Regions from separate parts of the Homo sapiens genome. Here region 2 is linked to region 1. A link means that fine-mapping ties the variant in region 1 to the expression of a gene that starts in the linked region. Tissue or cell type: whole blood. Region 1 holds a variant in brackets; the other region holds the start of a gene. All regions are shown on one strand. Distances are from middle to middle.

The links. PIP is the estimated chance that this variant, and not a neighbour inherited with it, causes the effect.
Region 2: VCPKMT starts here. The variant in region 1 is fine-mapped to the expression of VCPKMT in whole blood (TOPMed, PIP 0.90).

Annotation. Positions count from the first base shown.
Region 1 is chr14:50,227,769-50,235,875 of GRCh38, reverse strand. It overlaps SOS2 (SOS Ras/Rho guanine nucleotide exchange factor 2), which reads left to right and starts at 4,298. Exons shown (of 23, transcript NM_006939.4): 1 at 4,298-4,679. The coding sequence starts at 4,593. RefSeq lists an enhancer at 3,387-3,476 and a silencer at 3,627-4,706. The variant A/G (reference allele first, on the strand shown) is at 4,953.
Region 2 is chr14:50,112,592-50,120,698 of GRCh38, reverse strand. It overlaps VCPKMT (valosin containing protein lysine methyltransferase), which reads left to right and starts at 4,127. Exons shown (of 6, transcript NM_024558.3): 1 at 4,127-4,412; 2 at 4,520-4,630; 3 at 4,788-4,860; 4 at 6,295-6,414; 5 at 7,980-8,084. The coding sequence starts at 4,147. It overlaps SOS2 (SOS Ras/Rho guanine nucleotide exchange factor 2), which reads left to right. Exons shown (of 23, transcript NM_006939.4): 22 at 315-424; 23 at 1,846-3,569. The coding sequence ends at 2,355. RefSeq lists an enhancer at 4,131-4,190.

The DNA.
Region 1 (8,107 bases):
TAGGATGTGATTGAATCATGGGGGCGATTACTCCCATGCTGCAGTTCTCATGATAGTGAGTTCTCACAAAATCTGATGGTTTTATAAGGGCCTTTTCCCACTTTTGCTCAGCACTTCTCCTTGCTGCCGCTATGTGAAGAAGGACATGTTTGCTTCCCCTTCCACCATGATTGTAAAGTTTCCTGAGGCCTCCCCAGCCCTGTGGAATTGTGAGTTGTTTAAACCTCTTTCCTTTATAAATTACCCAGTATTGGGTATGTCTTTATTGGCAGCATGCGAACAGACCAATACGGTAAATGCAGAGAAATTATTTGAGTCAAATGCTTATATAATAAAATGCTGCATTCCTTATATATATATATATATATATATATGAGGAACCATACTTGCAGTACTATACATCCTGCACTTTTCATTTTGCAGCATATCTTAGATAATGTTCCACAGAGGCCTGGTTATTTTAAAATAACTTTATAGGTTCCACTGTATGGATTTACTATTATTTATTGAACTAGTCCCCTATTCCTACTGATGATTATTTAAACTGTTTATTTCTAGGGCGTTTTTTGTTTTGCTTTACTTCTGGTATAATAAACAACACTGCAATGAATAACCTTGTCTCTAAGTGACTTCATGTAAGAGCAAGTATATCTACAGGACATATTCCTAGAATTTGCTAGGTCAAAGAGAAACTTTGATATTATCTAGTTCCCCTTGACAGAAGTTGAAACAATTTATAGTCCTAATACACTTACAATATATTAGAATGCTTGTTTCCTCATATCTTCACCATCATAGTGTGTAATCAAACTTTTTCATCTGTGCTATTCTAATAGGTGAAAAATGATAACAGTATAACCCCCAAAAGAGAATTATCTTTTTCTCCACATCCTCAACAGCATTTGTTATTATCTGTCTTTTGGATATAGGCCATTTTAACTGGGGTGAGATGATATCTTATTGTAGTTTTGATCTGCATTTCTCTAATGATCAATGATGTTGAGCACCTTGTCATATCCCATTTGCCATTTGTATGTCTTCTTTTTTCTTTTTTTGTTTTAAATTTTTTAAAAAGTTTTTTTATAGAGATGGGGTCTCATTATGTTGCCCAGGCTCGTCTTCAATTCCTGGGCTCAAGGGATCCTCCTGCCTCGGCCTCCCAAAGTGCTGGGATTACAGGTGTTGAGCCACTGTGCCTGGCCCCTTTGTTTTTCTTATTGAATTTTAGCCTTTTAATTTGTAGGAGCTCTTTTATATTTTACTGAAATTAACTACAAAAATGAATTGCACCAGCTTGGGCAACATGGTGAGACCCTGTCTCTACCAAAAATACAAAAAATTAGCCGGGCATGGTGACACGTGCCTGTGATTCCAGCTACTCGGGAGGCTGAAGTGGGAGGATCACTTGAGCCCAGGAGGCGGAGGTTGCAGTGACCCAAGATCATGCCGCTGCACTGCAATCCAGCCTGAGTTAGAGTAAGACCCCATCTCAAACAAACAAACAAACAAACAAAAAACCCACAAAAATGAGTTGCTGCTATTTTTTCCAGTTTGTCATTTTCCTTTTGGCTTATCTGGTGATTTTTTTTGCCCTTTTTTTTTTTTTTTTTTTTTTTTTTTAAAGAGACAGGGTCTTACTGTGTTGCCCAGGCTGGTCTTCAACTCCTGGCCTCAAGCTATGCTTCTACCTCGGCCACTGGAGTTGTTGGGATTACAGGCATGTACCACCATGCCCGGCTCATACATTTATAAAAATTGAATTTATCGGTCTTTTAGATCTTGTGTCATAGTGAAAGTGTCTTTTTCCGTTCTGAGGTTATAAATGAATCATTGTATGGTTTTATTGTTTACATTTAAATCTTTGACATATCTGGAGTTTTTGCTAGTGTATTGTATAGGGTATGGATCCAACATTTTTTCTAGATAGCCCATTTGTCTGAATGAGAAACTTTTTTTTTTTTGAGACGGAGTCTTGCTCTTGTTGCCCAGGCTAGAGTGCAATGGCGTGATCTAGCTCACCACAACCTCCACCTTCCGTGTTCAAGCGATTCTCCTGACTCAGCCTCCCGTGTAGCTAAGAATTACAGGCATGCGCCACCTTGCCCAGCTAGTTTTGTTATTTTTAGTAGAGAGGGGGTTTTTCCATGTTGGTCAGGCTGGTCTCAAACTCCCGACCTCAGGTGATCCACCCGCCTCGGCCTCCCAAAGTGCTGGAATTGCAGGTGTGAGCCACCTCGCCCGGCCCTGAATGGGAAACTTTTTACTGCTGTCATTCTTGGACTATCCTCCACATGCACGTGGATCATATTTCTGTTTGCTCAGCCCAGACATCAGAACTCAGATGCCTGTAGAGACTAGGCAAGTTACATAAAAGGGTGAAGAGTGCCAGGTGGGAAGTATAGCCAACTGGAAATGGATGGCATATTTTTATAAAGAGGGCAGCCACTACCCGGTGCCTGCTGATTACTCTCTTGCACGAATGCAGTAGGTCCCAGTGTTGCCAGATCTTTGTCAAGAGAAGCTGAAAATATACATTTTTATATGAAGCCTCTTGATTTTAAAATGTTAACAATTAAATTTAAATACAGCCTTAGCTAAACAAAATATGTCTTCAGGCCTGACTTGGCCCAGAAAAGCCTTCTGATATTCCTAGCCAAGAATGAGATTTCTAACAAGTTTACTCTCCTATGAGTAAAGAGAACATACATGGTCTAGTAGTTTGACATCACAGTAGTTTATAGCTGGAGTCTGGGAACAGGAGAGAAAAGTAAGGACCCTCTATATAAGCCAAAGTCTTCGCTCTCACAGACTGAAACATTAATGGGAGAAATACAAGCATTTTACCATCCCACCTTTTATCCCAAGTACATGTGAATGGATATGGCCATTTATTAGAGGATGTTCTTGATTTAGTGGATACTTTAGTGGATTAGAAAAATAATCTTATTTTCCAACTCTGCCATTCTGATTTTGCCCAAATGAAAAAGTGGTGCATGTTTTGGGGAGAATAATTGCTCAGCTACTGATGCCGGAACTGAATTGTAGTACTGACTTATTTTTTGTACCCTGTTCGTCTTTTCCCTTTCTCACTGCTGGTGGCTAGGGACAGGGAGTAAAATATCTTCTTTACAACCTGTTAAAAGTAATGTGCTCAGCCTCTTTAGTGGGATGAAATTTGTGGTAATGAGTTACCAGAGCCTATGCCTCTTTGGATTGAAAAGCTTGTCAGGATCTTTTCTGGGTTGCTAATGAGTGTTTCCTAGACGCCGATCCAGGTTTTGTAGGACCTGAAGCCTACACAATTTGGATGACACGATTAAGAAAACAATTCGAAAATATCTTGAAAGTTTTGTAAAAACGATATGATTTTGTGAACGCACAGGGGCCCGTGCAAGTGAAGGACCTTTCAATTCAAGCTTGATCAACGTCACTGTCATCTGCCCCTTCTGACCCTACCACCAGGCTAAGGGCTTTCCACGCCTCATCTCTCGGTCCCCACACCATCACCCTAAGAAATAGTTACTGTATCTCCTAACGATATATTATATATAGTACCTACTTTGTGTAAACATACGGTACTCATGAAAACAAGCCACGTAGAGCACAAATACGTTAAATATCCTGTCCAGCCCGAATGCCCCTTTCTCTCCACGTCCCTATGCAGCCTCCCACGACGGTAGTCCTGGGGCTCCAGCGCTACAAGAGTGGCACCGAGTCCGGATTGTCTTAAGCAGGTCGAGAGGAGGGAGCATATGGGTAAAAAGCAGTCAAACTGAAGAGTCTGGAGCGGCCCCCAGCACAGTCTCGGGAAAAGCGGACTCCCCCGGGGCCCCAGGCCCCGCACCCCCGCGCCGGGCTGGCGCCTGTGCCTGCTCCGCGGCGCGCATGCTCCGTGTTAGGCCTCTTGGGCTATTCGGGATAATGAGCGCCGGGCCGAGGGGGCGGGCCGAGCCTCGGCTGCTGGGACTCAGGGCTCAGCGGCGACCCCAAGGCACTCTGCGCTGCTGCTAAAGGGGCAGCAACGGCGGCCAGCGCTGTGCGCGCCATAGCGAGGCTCGCTCGCCCGACGCGCACTCCGGGTCGGTCCCCAGAGCTCTGTGGAGGTGACTCGAGTGGGCAGGGCCGGGCGGCGCTGTCGGCTGGGAGGGCGGGGAGGAGGCGATGAGGAGACGAGCAGCCGCCGCCGCCGCCGCCGCTGCTCACCGCCCGCCGCGGCCGTAGCGGGAGTCGGGGCGGGGCTGGGCCAGCTGTACCCCTGACGGGCCGCGAACCCAGACAAAGGAGGAGGAGCCGCCCCAGAAGCGGGCCAGCGCCGCCGGGAAAGGAGGTCGCCGCCCGGGGTCGCCCGGGCTTGCGGGTCGCCGCGCTTCCTCTGCGGGCGCTGCGGGAGGCGAGGGCCGCCTCGGCGGAGGAAGCCGACCCCGGGGTCTCCGCCAGCCCGCCGGCGCCGCCTCCGAGCCGCCTCGGCCGTAGCCTCGGCCCGGGCGGGAGGCGGCGGCCGCCGGCGAGGCGAGGCGGCCCGCGCCCTGCCTGTCAGGCCACCGGCCCGGCCCGCGGGCTGCCCCCGATGCGGAGGCGCTGTCGCCGGGGCCATGCAGCAGGCGCCGCAGCCTTACGAGTTCTTCAGCGAGGAGAACAGTCCGAAATGGCGGGGACTGTTGGTCTCGGCCCTGCGGAAGGTCAGTGCTAGGGGCGGGGCGGCCGGCGGGTGGCCCGTGGCCCCCCGAGCTTCTAACGGGGAGCAGGTCGTCCCTCCCACAGGGCTCGAGTCCCCGGGGCCGAGCCGTTTCTCGTTGGCTGGCAATGGGGGGCTCACAATTGCCTGTTGCATTCTGAAGGACGTTTCTCAAGTTTTTTTTTTTTGCCTGGTCCCGGAAGGAAGGTTTTGTTATGATCATAAAACTGGATTTCATGTTGCAGTCATTTCGTCAGGCAACTTCCGCCGTTGACCA[A/G]TTTGTTGTCCTCAGGCTGGAATCGGGCAAGAGAAAGTCCCGCTGGTATTTAGACAGTTTCTAAAACAAAAGCACATTTTCAGGCCGGGTAATTACTTTTAATTAAGTTCTTTGGGAGTGTTCCCCCTAGGCGGTTTGCTTGTCAAGGGTATCCACTTATGAGGCAATGGTTTTTTGTAATATGGATGTTTCACATGTGTGAAATGTCAGTGAGTCATAATATTCTTATTCATTTTACAGTTCTCAAGGTAAATTTAAAGCGCCTTCCCACTTCCTGCAAACGGTGTCTTACCTGTTTACAAGAGATTACCCTTAGAAAATTTGGTCAGTGTCTTCAGTGTCTTCACGACCAAATTGCGATTTAGGACTTGAAATCATTTTAAGGAACAAGAAAGGGGCAACTCCTGCAAATCAGTCTTTCATGTTTGGGTGCATTGCTAGGGTGCATCTTTCCTGTAGATGGTGGCGGTCTTCCTCTGTGAATTTAGGTAGTAACCATACGATCATTTTTATAATAAATCCTTCTGTAAGATCAAGACATTTAAAGACTGTGAATAGGTGCGTGATCAGCTGTCATGCCTGTTGAGCAGGGGCTTTCTTTCTTTGCCGTTAATGCAGACTTAGTCTCTTCTGCCTTTTGTGCAAAATAACCAAGAATACATTCTAAAATAAGGAAAAAATAAAGATTAATTTAAAAGACTATACTTGGAAAATATATCCTCAGACATTAAATTTCTATAAATGAAAGGAAGTAGTGTATTTTAAAGTTAAAGACATTTTCCTCATGCGATGAGAGTTGCAGATTTTCCCTTATTTTCATAATTCTTACAAGGAAGTATTGCTTTCCTCAGGGCAAACACTAAGTCGTATCTTTTTAAAGAACCTGGCAGAAATGACTAGTGGCAGCTAGACAGTTATTCCATTGGTATACCAAGTGCTAAAGTATTAAATTGACCTTACTTCCATGTGCAGCCCAATTCTGTAAGGAGAGGGAAAGAAATGAAAAGTGTGCTGAGTGGTGAAAATGAACTCTGGCCTGAATTAAAAGCAAAGGGGGAAATGCCTAGATAGTAATTAGCCCTTTGACCACAGACAAGTGTGAGTGCAGTAATCAGGTAGGCCTATATTGTTGGCAATGTGACGCAGGTATATACCCATTTATAACTTTCTGGTAGCAAATAGTATTTGGGTGTGTGTTGCATAACTTGTTCAATAGGTAGCTTTGATTCTAATAATCCTTTATGTCCAGAAACAGATTTATGTTTTCTTTTTCTTCAAATAGAGACAGGGTTATGCTATGTTGCCCAGGCTGGTCTTGAACTTCTGGCCTCAAGCAGTCCGCCCACCTCTGCCTTCCAAACTGTTGGGATTACAGGCATAAACCACCTCGCACCAGACCCAGATTTTTTTTTTTTTTTTTCAAGTTAGGCTGGAGAAGCCAAGATTAGCATCCAATCCTAGTCCATTGCTTTGGTGCTATTACTTTGCATTTATATTGTGCTTGTTTTCCTGGAACTCAGGTGCCTTGTAGATACTATGTTATATTCCACAGTTCTAGTATGTTCTTTATGAAATAAATACATCTAAGAAAATTTGGTCTTTTGAGGTGAATTCAGAAAACATTTTCTATTAACTTACTGTTGTGATAGAATTGAAATACATACGTATGGAAAATTTTTTTATATTTTTGGAAAAATTTTGGTAAAAGTAATTAAGATTATGTCCACTTTTATGGTATTTAGGACATTGCAACTTGTAGGTCTGTAGTGCCTGCTAAGAGCTGTAGCTCTTAGGGAGCTAAAGGTTCACTCTTTCTTTGCAGGAAGTTTTAAATTCTGGTATGCATCAGCCACCTTGTCTTTGTAAAATGAGAATTTCTACCATTTTGGGGGAGTCTCTGTCTTCACATTCAGAGCATCTAGAACTTGGCATCCTTCCTCTAGCTGACCAGATCGTTACAAAGACAACTAGGATTTGATTGGAATATCTCTCTCCTTCAATTGGTGTTGCCATTGTACATGTGGTGTATTCTAGCTTCATTAATTCACTTAACCATTATTGAACACATTTTACATACTTGACATGATGCGGGATCCTAAGAGTACAAAGTTAAAATAAAGGCCCCTCCAAAGATGTATACCATCTAAACCAAAAATTCTAAAATTTGAGGTTTTGGTTTATGTAAATGAGAGCGGTTCTGAGCTCAGAGTTCAGTAAGGGGTATTTGTGTGTCTATGAAAGCAGCAATGTAGCTTACTTGGCTCTGTCAGTTTAGTCCACTTGGACATCTTGGTGGAACCTCCAAAACTGTTAGAACGTAATTTTCAGAAAGGTAAAGTCATCACTTCCATGCAAATGTAAATGAACATGTATCAATTATTTTGATTCAGCCCATTGATGAGGGAACTAGTAAGATGTTAAAGTCACTTAATATGAAAATTTGAGGAGGTATTTATAGGCAATTTAATAAGGGAATATTAAGACTGTTGGGTTACATACAGAATTAGTTAATACCCTACAAGAAACATAAAAGAGTAGGCTTTGGGTTATATTTTCCTCTGGCTAAAAATTACTTGCATCTCAGTGGGCGTGGTGGCTCACACCTGTAATCCAGCACTCTGGGAGGCTGAGGCTGGTGGATCAACTGAGTTTAGGAGTTCGTGACCAGCCTGGCCAGCATGGTGAAACCCCGTCTCTACTAAAAAATACCAAAAATTAGCTGGGTGTGGTGGTGTGTGCCTGTAATCCCAGCTGCTCAGGAGGCTGAGGCAGGAGAATCACTTGAACCTGCTAGGCAGAGGTTGCAGTGAGCCGAGATCACACCACTGCACTCCATCCTGGGCGACAGAGCGAGACTCCATCTCAAAAAAAAAAAAAAAATTACTTGCATCTCTATCTGCTGAAAAGCTGTAACTTAATCTTATAGATGTGTAAAATAGTCAGTAGAAATTAATAAAAGATTCAAGCATAGCACTGTACTGAAACACAGCCAGTATTCTTTTGCTTATTTTCCAGTTTTGGCTAGTTTTTATGAAAACTGGATATCTATGTCTATATCCATGTATATATCCATATATACCCATATATAGATCCATATATATATGTATTTGACAAAGTCACCATTGTCAACATTGAAAATTCAAGGGATTTTTAAA
Region 2 (8,107 bases), 120 kb after region 1:
CAGTGTATTTAGACATGTTTTGTTTTGATTTGTGAAAGGCTTTTCAGGGAGCAGAATCTCATTAATCATAATTAAATAGTACACCTTCATTTAGCTGAAGTACCCATCATGCCCCAGGCACTATGGTTGGTGCTAGAGACACAGAAATAAATACACACTCCCTGCAGAAAGCTTACAATTTAATGGGGGAAGATAGATAAACCAATAGTTGATACAGTCTGACAAATGCCATGGTAGAAGTATCGATCACAAATTGTGATAAAGGTTTATCTTATACTGTGAATTGTGGTTAAACTAGTCTTTTTCTCCCCCAGAGTCTTTCTTTAGTTCATGTGGTAGTTTACATAAACTAAGTGAAGAGCCCCTGATTCCTCCTCCTCTTCCTCCTCGAAAAAAGTTTGATCATGATGCTTCAAATTCCAAGGTAATCAACAGGACTTTACTCCAACTTATTCAAAGTTGTGAATCTTCAAAATAATGCCTAGTGTTATAAAGAGTCTGTGAATTATACTTTGGCTACCATTTATGGTTTTTCAGCATTTGGGTTGTTATATTTGAAAAATACTTTTAGTTGTTTAATCCTTATAAAAACCTTTTCTAAATAAGAGGCTGGGCCGGGCGCAGTGGCTCATGCCAGGCGGGTAGATCACCTGAGATCAGGAGTTCGAGACCAGCCTGGTCAACATGATGAAACCCCATCTCTACTAAAAATACAAAAAATTAGCTGGGTGTGGTGGCGGGTGCCTGTGATTCCAGCTACTGGGGAGGCTGAGGCAGGAGAAGCGCTTGAACCTGGGAGTTGGAGGTTGCAGTGAGCCAGGATCGTGCCACTGCACTCCAGTCTGGGCAACAATTGCAAAACTCTTGTCTCAAAAAAAAAAAAAAAAAAAAAAAAGGCTGGTTGGGAGGCTGAGGCAGGCAGATCATCTGAAGTCAGGAGTTCAAGACCAGCCTGGCCAATATGGTGAAACCCTGTCTCTACTAAAAATACAAAAATTAGCCGGGCATGGTGGCGGGCACCTGTAATCCCAGCTACTCAAGAGGCTAAGGCAGGAGAATCACTTGAACCTGGGAGGTGAAGGTAGGTTGCAGTGAGCCAAGATCGCACCATTGCACTCCAGCCTGGGCGACAGAGCAAGACTCTGTCTCAAAAACTAAAAATAAAAATAAAAAAATAAAAAAGAGGCTGGAAGTACATTTTCTTTCTGGTACAGGTGGAAAAAAACTTCAGTAGTATTCCAAGTATTCTTCAAACTTTCAACTAATGCTTCTCAAAATTTTAAGGGTGCATCAGAATTACCTGAAAGGCTTGGTAAAATCAGACTGTGGAGCCACACCTCCAGAGTTTCTGATTCAGTAGTCTAGGATGGGGCCCAAGAATTTGCTTTTCTAACAAGTTCCCTACTGATGCTGATGTTGTTGGTCTCTGGATCACACTTTGAGATCTACTGCTCTAAGCCTCACTGGAGAAAGTAGCAGTAGATGCCCAGTAAGCAGAAGCTAGACATTAAAGTCCTCTAGACATCATGTCCTTTCATGTCTATAAAGCAATAAATTATTGTCACTTACCTACTATTATAATTAAAATACATAAATTTCTGAAATGTATACACAAAGCAAGATAAAGAGTTAGGACCTAAGACTTAAATTAAAACATCTCATATATAAAAATATTAAACCCAGCCCTGAATTAATCTAGGAGTACTCATAATCTGATAATTAACCCAGATTAGTTTATTTTGAGCCTCTGAATTTAACTTGACAAGTAAGAATTTTTCAGACTTAAAAATTTTTTTTTTTAATTTTTCAGAATAGAGGTATAATTTAATTACTTTTTTTTTTGAGGGAAATATGAAATCTGATGATGATCCTCCTGCTATTCCACCGAGACAGCCTCCTCCTCCAAAGGTAAAACCCAGAGTTCCTGTTCCTACTGGTGCATTTGATGGGCCTCTGCATAGTCCACCTCCGCCACCACCAAGAGATCCTCTTCCTGATACCCCTCCACCAGTTCCCCTTCGGCCTCCAGAACACTTTATAAACTGTCCATTTAATCTTCAGCCACCTCCACTGGGGCATCTTCACAGAGATTCAGACTGGCTCAGAGACATTAGTACGTGTCCAAATTCGCCAAGCACTCCTCCTAGCACACCCTCTCCAAGGGTACCGCGTCGATGCTATGTGCTCAGTTCTAGTCAGAATAATCTTGCTCATCCTCCAGCTCCCCCTGTTCCACCAAGGCAGAATTCAAGCCCTCATCTGCCAAAACTGCCACCAAAGACTTACAAACGGGAGCTTTCGCACCCCCCATTGTACAGACTGCCTTTGCTAGAAAATGCAGAAACTCCCCAATGACCTTAGCCATATGTAGTCATTGACACTGGAATGGTATTTGTAAAGTTTTTTTTTTAATTTATTCAAAAAAAGACATAGTATTTTAGTACTTTTTACAAATAATGCTCTTACAAAAATGCTACTGATCAAATAAGCTTTTAAGAATTGGAAAAATAAAAATACAAAAGTCCTTCACCATTATCCTCAGGTGATCAGTAGCATTGCCTTGTCTTGGATCCTCAGTGCTGCCAAAAGGCCAGTATAAAGAATTTATATTTGCACTGTAAACTCTGCAAAAATATGGTTTAAAGTGACATGATTGCACTGAAAAGGGATAGTGCTTTTGTGAAATTTTTCAAATTTGAGTAATAGATGCCTTTTTAAGGCAGTGAATTTACACAAATATGGGAGGGGTATATGGTGTTACTGATTTTTAAACCTCTTTGACCATCTTCTAGTTTTTACTTCTAGTTTTTACATCTAGGAGAATTGTGAATAACACCAACTGTTCTTAAACTCTTTAATGCCATGTCTTAAATGCCGGTATTTGCTGCTGAAGACAAAAATGAAAAGTAGGATGAAAATAATAGAATGGCACTGTAAGTGTTTATTATTTTGTCAAAATGTAAACAAAGACTACATAACCCAATGATGGAGGGAAAAAGGGCATGTATCTCATTCAGATGTGCCTTTTGTTTTTGCAGACTATGACGTCTTTAGCTAATGAATTGCCTATTGTTATGGAAAACAGTTAATATGCCATGTATGTACAGTTTTGTTTATATTGTATATTTAAAGATACTGCTAATAACCTATATAAATTTAAGTGACTTGAGGCCTATAATACAATCTGCTACTTTACTAATTCATAAATTCAAAAAAAATTCTATGGCATAGGAACCAACTGCCTTGCCTTCAAGACCTAGTAACTTTCTCTATAAATCTCGTGTTAACTGAAATTTTTTTTAAATATATTTTTTAGATTGGTAATATTTAAACCAGCAAATACTTAAAGCTTTATTAAACATTTTAATCAGATAAGTGAGTAAAGCTTTTATTTGCCATTTGGATGCCTTCGTTCAAAGTGATAGAGTGTTTTGCTGATAGTGCTGTAGCAGCAGTTGTAAAGTAGCCAAAAGCCACGTTGTTTATTTACTGGTTTGTGGCCTTTTACTGTGCTTTGTATCAGAGTTCTTAACAAGATTAATAAATCACCCCAGTCTTAATTTTTAAAAGACTTTTAAAATATGTGTTTTCATTATAAGGAACAAAGGGGGAGATTGTTGAGTCCTATAGACACACACACACACACACACAATTTTTTCTTCACTGTTAAATGTGAGCTGCAGGCTTCTAGCAACCACTTTTATGAATTCATACAAAAAACTAGGAGCATACTAGGAACTTGAAAAGGAAGATTGTAAGATTATAGCCATCTTTGGTAGGATCTTGGAAGCTGATTGCATTTAAGCCTTGTAACTACTATGTAAATCAAGTGTCCAACTTGGTAAACTCTGAGGTTGGCTTTGTTTTTTAAAGAGCAGATTATAATAGTTTTGTCTGGGAAAGTGATTTAAACGGCCTCTTCGTTAAGCCAAACGTGTGATTTAGGGTAGAGGGAGGCTGCCAAGCGCGTCGGGTAAGCAGGGGCCCCACGCTCGGCCCCGCCCAGGTAACGCTGCCTTCCGGGCTTTGTTAACTCGCGCGCGCTGCGTCGCCAACTCAGCGGCGGGCAGGGGGCGGAGCCGCAGGGCGGGGCGGTGCGCGTTGATGTGACGTCCCTGCGCGCGCCGCTTTCTGTTGCCGGGCGCAATGGCGGATACGCTGGAGTCCTCGCTGGAGGACCCACTGCGGAGCTTTGTGCGAGTTTTGGAGAAGCGGGATGGTACAGTGCTACGACTACAGCAGTATAGCTCCGGTGGCGTGGGTTGCGTTGTGTGGGACGCTGCCATTGTCCTTTCTAAATACCTGGAAACGCCCGAGTTTTCTGGCGACGGGGCCCACGCGCTGAGCCGGCGGTCGGTGCTGGAGCTGGGTTCGGGCACCGGGGCCGTGGGGCTCATGGCTGCTACCCTCGGGTAAGAGCTGGCGGGCGGGCGGGATGTGGGGGCGCCTTCTTGCTGGGGAAATCCGGATTACAGGCTTTCCCCCCTGTGCCTACACCTCAGTCGACGTTATTTTATAGGGCTGATGTTGTAGTCACCGATCTTGAGGAATTGCAAGACTTGCTGAAGATGAATATTAATATGAACAAGCATCTTGTCACTGGTTCTGTTCAAGCCAAGGTACTGAAATGGTTTGTATGGCCTTTCAGCTTGTTTTAAGATATTGATTTGTAGTTTGTTTTGAATTGCGTTTCATTAAAAGGATGGAAGGGGACTTTCCGGTTCTTTATAAAACAAGAGTATTTTGAATTATTAAAACAATTGAAATATTTGTTTGGCATTTTTAAGGGGGGAAGAAATAGAAGGCTTTCCTTCTCCACCCGACTTCATACTGATGGCCGACTGCATATACTATGAAGAGGTAAGTATCCAGTGAGCGAAGTCTCTTCACTTAGAAGATGAACCTTATTCCATGAATTCTAAAGCACACGTTTCTTCACATTTTAACATCTTTGAATCCGGGATTTGCCTTATAGTTGATGCAGTAAAGAGAAGATAAAAGTCACCAGGGACCATATGTATATACGCTCATCATTATCATACCGACCTGGTGAAGCATGTTGAGAAAAGTGTTATATGCATTTTACTAGAGGCTTCTGTAAAAATTTTAAAGGATTTTGCCAATTGGATGTTATGAAAAGCCAAAATCCTCTCTTTTTCCCTTGGTTGTTCCCACGGAACATGTTAACCATGACATTGAGAATTAAGTTATAAATAATTCATTGTTCTTTTCTTTAAATACCAGTTTGGGCCGGGCGCGGTGGCTCACGCCTGTAATCCCAACACTTGGGAGGTCAAGGCAGGTGGCTCACCTGAGGTCGGGAGTTCGAGACCAGCCTGACCTACATGGCAAAACCCTGTCTCTACTAAAAATACAAAATTAGCCAGGCGTGGTGGTGCATGTCTGTAATCCTAGCTATTTGGGAGTCTGAGGCAGGAGAATCGCTTGAACCTGGGAGGCGGAGGTTGCAGTGAGCCGAAATCATGCCATTGCATTCCAGCCTGGGCAACAAGAGCAAAACTCTGTCTCAAAAAAAAAAAAAAAAAAAAAAAACATCAGTTTGTATAGTGTTGTGGGCATCGATTATTTTAAAAATAATTAGCATTGAACCAAGTTAGGGTCAGATTTAACTTTTGTAGGGAAATCGTTGATTATTTAAATCCCAAATTAGATTAAATAAAATTAAACTTTTAAGAGTAAGGTTGATTCCATTTGTTTCCCATGAGAACTCCAAAATGCAGTCATCTGAATCCTTTTTCTGGAAACCAAAATCAGTACATGGTTTAGTTAACAGGAGCTTACCCAATCATTAGTTACAGAGGGGTTTTTGTTTGTTTGTTTTTGTTTTAAGATAGGGGTCTTGCTCTGTCACACATGTTGTAGTGCAGTGGAGTGATCATAGCTCACTGTAACCTCGAGCTCCTGAGGCTCAAGTAATCCTCCCATTCAGCCTCCTCAATAGCTGGGACTATAGGTGTGCACCAGCATGCTGGCTAATTTTTAAATTTTTTGTAAGGTGTTGCGGGGGGTGGTTTGTCTCTCGCTGTATTCTCCAGGCTGGTCTTCAACTCCTGCTTTCAAGCGATCTTTCCACCTCTGCCTTCCAAAGTGTTGATATTACAGGTGTGAGCCACTGCACCTAGCCTAGAGCTTTAATTACATGTGCTTTGTTGGATTGATTCAAAGATGGATAAATTGTAGGGGAGCTATAAATACCCCTGTACCTCCTCAACCTACTTTTAGAGTAGAAAAATTTTTAAATCAAAAACAAAAAATATATTCTTTTTTAAATAGTCTTTGGAGCCATTGCTGAAAACTCTAAAAGATATCAGCGGATTTGAAACTTGTATTATATGTTGTTATGAACAACGAACAATGGGGAAAAATCCAGAAATTGAGAAAAAATATTTTGAGGTAAGTATTAAGTACTCTATTATCTTTGTAGTGATTTCCCTTCAGGGGGGCTGTATGTGACTCTTCAAGTATATTATGGTAATTTTGGGTGGGGAAAACATGCTGTTTGTGTGAAGCTGAGGAAAGGATCTTCACAGCCCATGATTCTACGAAGCTCCCCTTTTTCATCTTTTCTGATACTTTATTTCATTTCTAATTAGTTGATCTATGGCTACAGAAGAATGTTAATACGGGTGCCACTCCTTTTTAAGAACAGTTTTCAGTGTTTATTAAACATGATGCTGCCTTTGGGGAACATCTCAATGATGTATGTATTACCTTTGGAGAATACGTGATAGAAATGTGCAGGTGATAAGTTGTTTTTGTTTTGAGACAGGGTTTCACCCTGTAGCCCATGCCGGAGTGCAGTGGCACAGTCAGGGCTCACTGCATCCTCAACCTCCTGGGCTCAAGTGATCCTCCTGCCTCAGTGTCACCCCCCCCCCCCCCCGCCCCCAAGTAAGTGGGACTATAGGCATGTACCACCACACCCGGCTAACTTTTTGTATTTTTTTGTAGAGATGGGGTTTTCCCATGTTGCCAAGTGATAAGTTTTTACTTCTGTGTTTTTCTCTACATATTTATGAAACCTCCAACCTAGATACCTGTCTATTTTTAGGGTCTTTTTTTTTGTTTTTTAAACTTTTTGTCTGAAATAGTTAGAAAAGACTTACAGGAAGTTGCAAAATATAGTATATAGGGTTTTATGTATCTGTCACTCTTCTTCCCCTAGTGATCACCCAAACCCTTATATGGGCACAAATCTATCACATTGTGAGTGACTCCTTTTGAGGGTACATCTATATAGGCCTGCAGTTTTGTCTGCTGGAAGGACTACTTTGGTTTAATGAGAAAGCAGGTATATGACTGCCTCAGGTAACAAATACTAAAATGTTTGTTTATTTTCATGTTTTTCTTGAATATGAAAAATGTTCATGAACTTTTGAAATGATGCATAATGAAAATTTCGTACTGTTAAACAGCTTTTATTGGGGTAAAGCATATGTAAAATGCATATGTATCAGTCAAGTGCTGAGCTTAATTTTTCATATGTATACACCCAAGTAACTACTTACCAACATAAAGATAGAGGACATTTTCAGGATCTTGGAAGGTTTGCACACTGCCCTTTCCCAGGCAATACTCAAAAGGTAACCACTGACCAGGCGCGGTGGCTCACGCCTGTAATCCCAGCACTTTGGGAGGCCGAGATGGGCAGATCATGAGGTCAGGAGTTCGAGACCAGCCTGGTCAACATGGTGAAACCCTTTCTTTACTAAAAATACAAAAATTAGCTGGGTGTGGTGTCGTTTGCCTGTAATCCCAGCTACTCAGGAGGCTGAGGCAGGAGAATCACTTGAACCCAGGGAGGTGGAGGTTGCAGTGAGCCAAGATCGCACCACTGCACTCCAGCCTGGGTGACAGAGTGAGACTCTCAAAAAAAAAGTAACCAGCATTCTGACTTCTGTCACCCACAGGTCAGTTCATATTATTGAATTTGAAGTATGTCTCTTTTAAATTTATAGCTCCTTCAGCTAGATTTTGACTTTGAAAAAATTCCTTTGGAAAAACATGATGAAGAGTATCGAAGTGAAGATATTCATATTATATACATCAGAAAGAAAAAATCGGTAAATAACATTCTCAGTTCTTC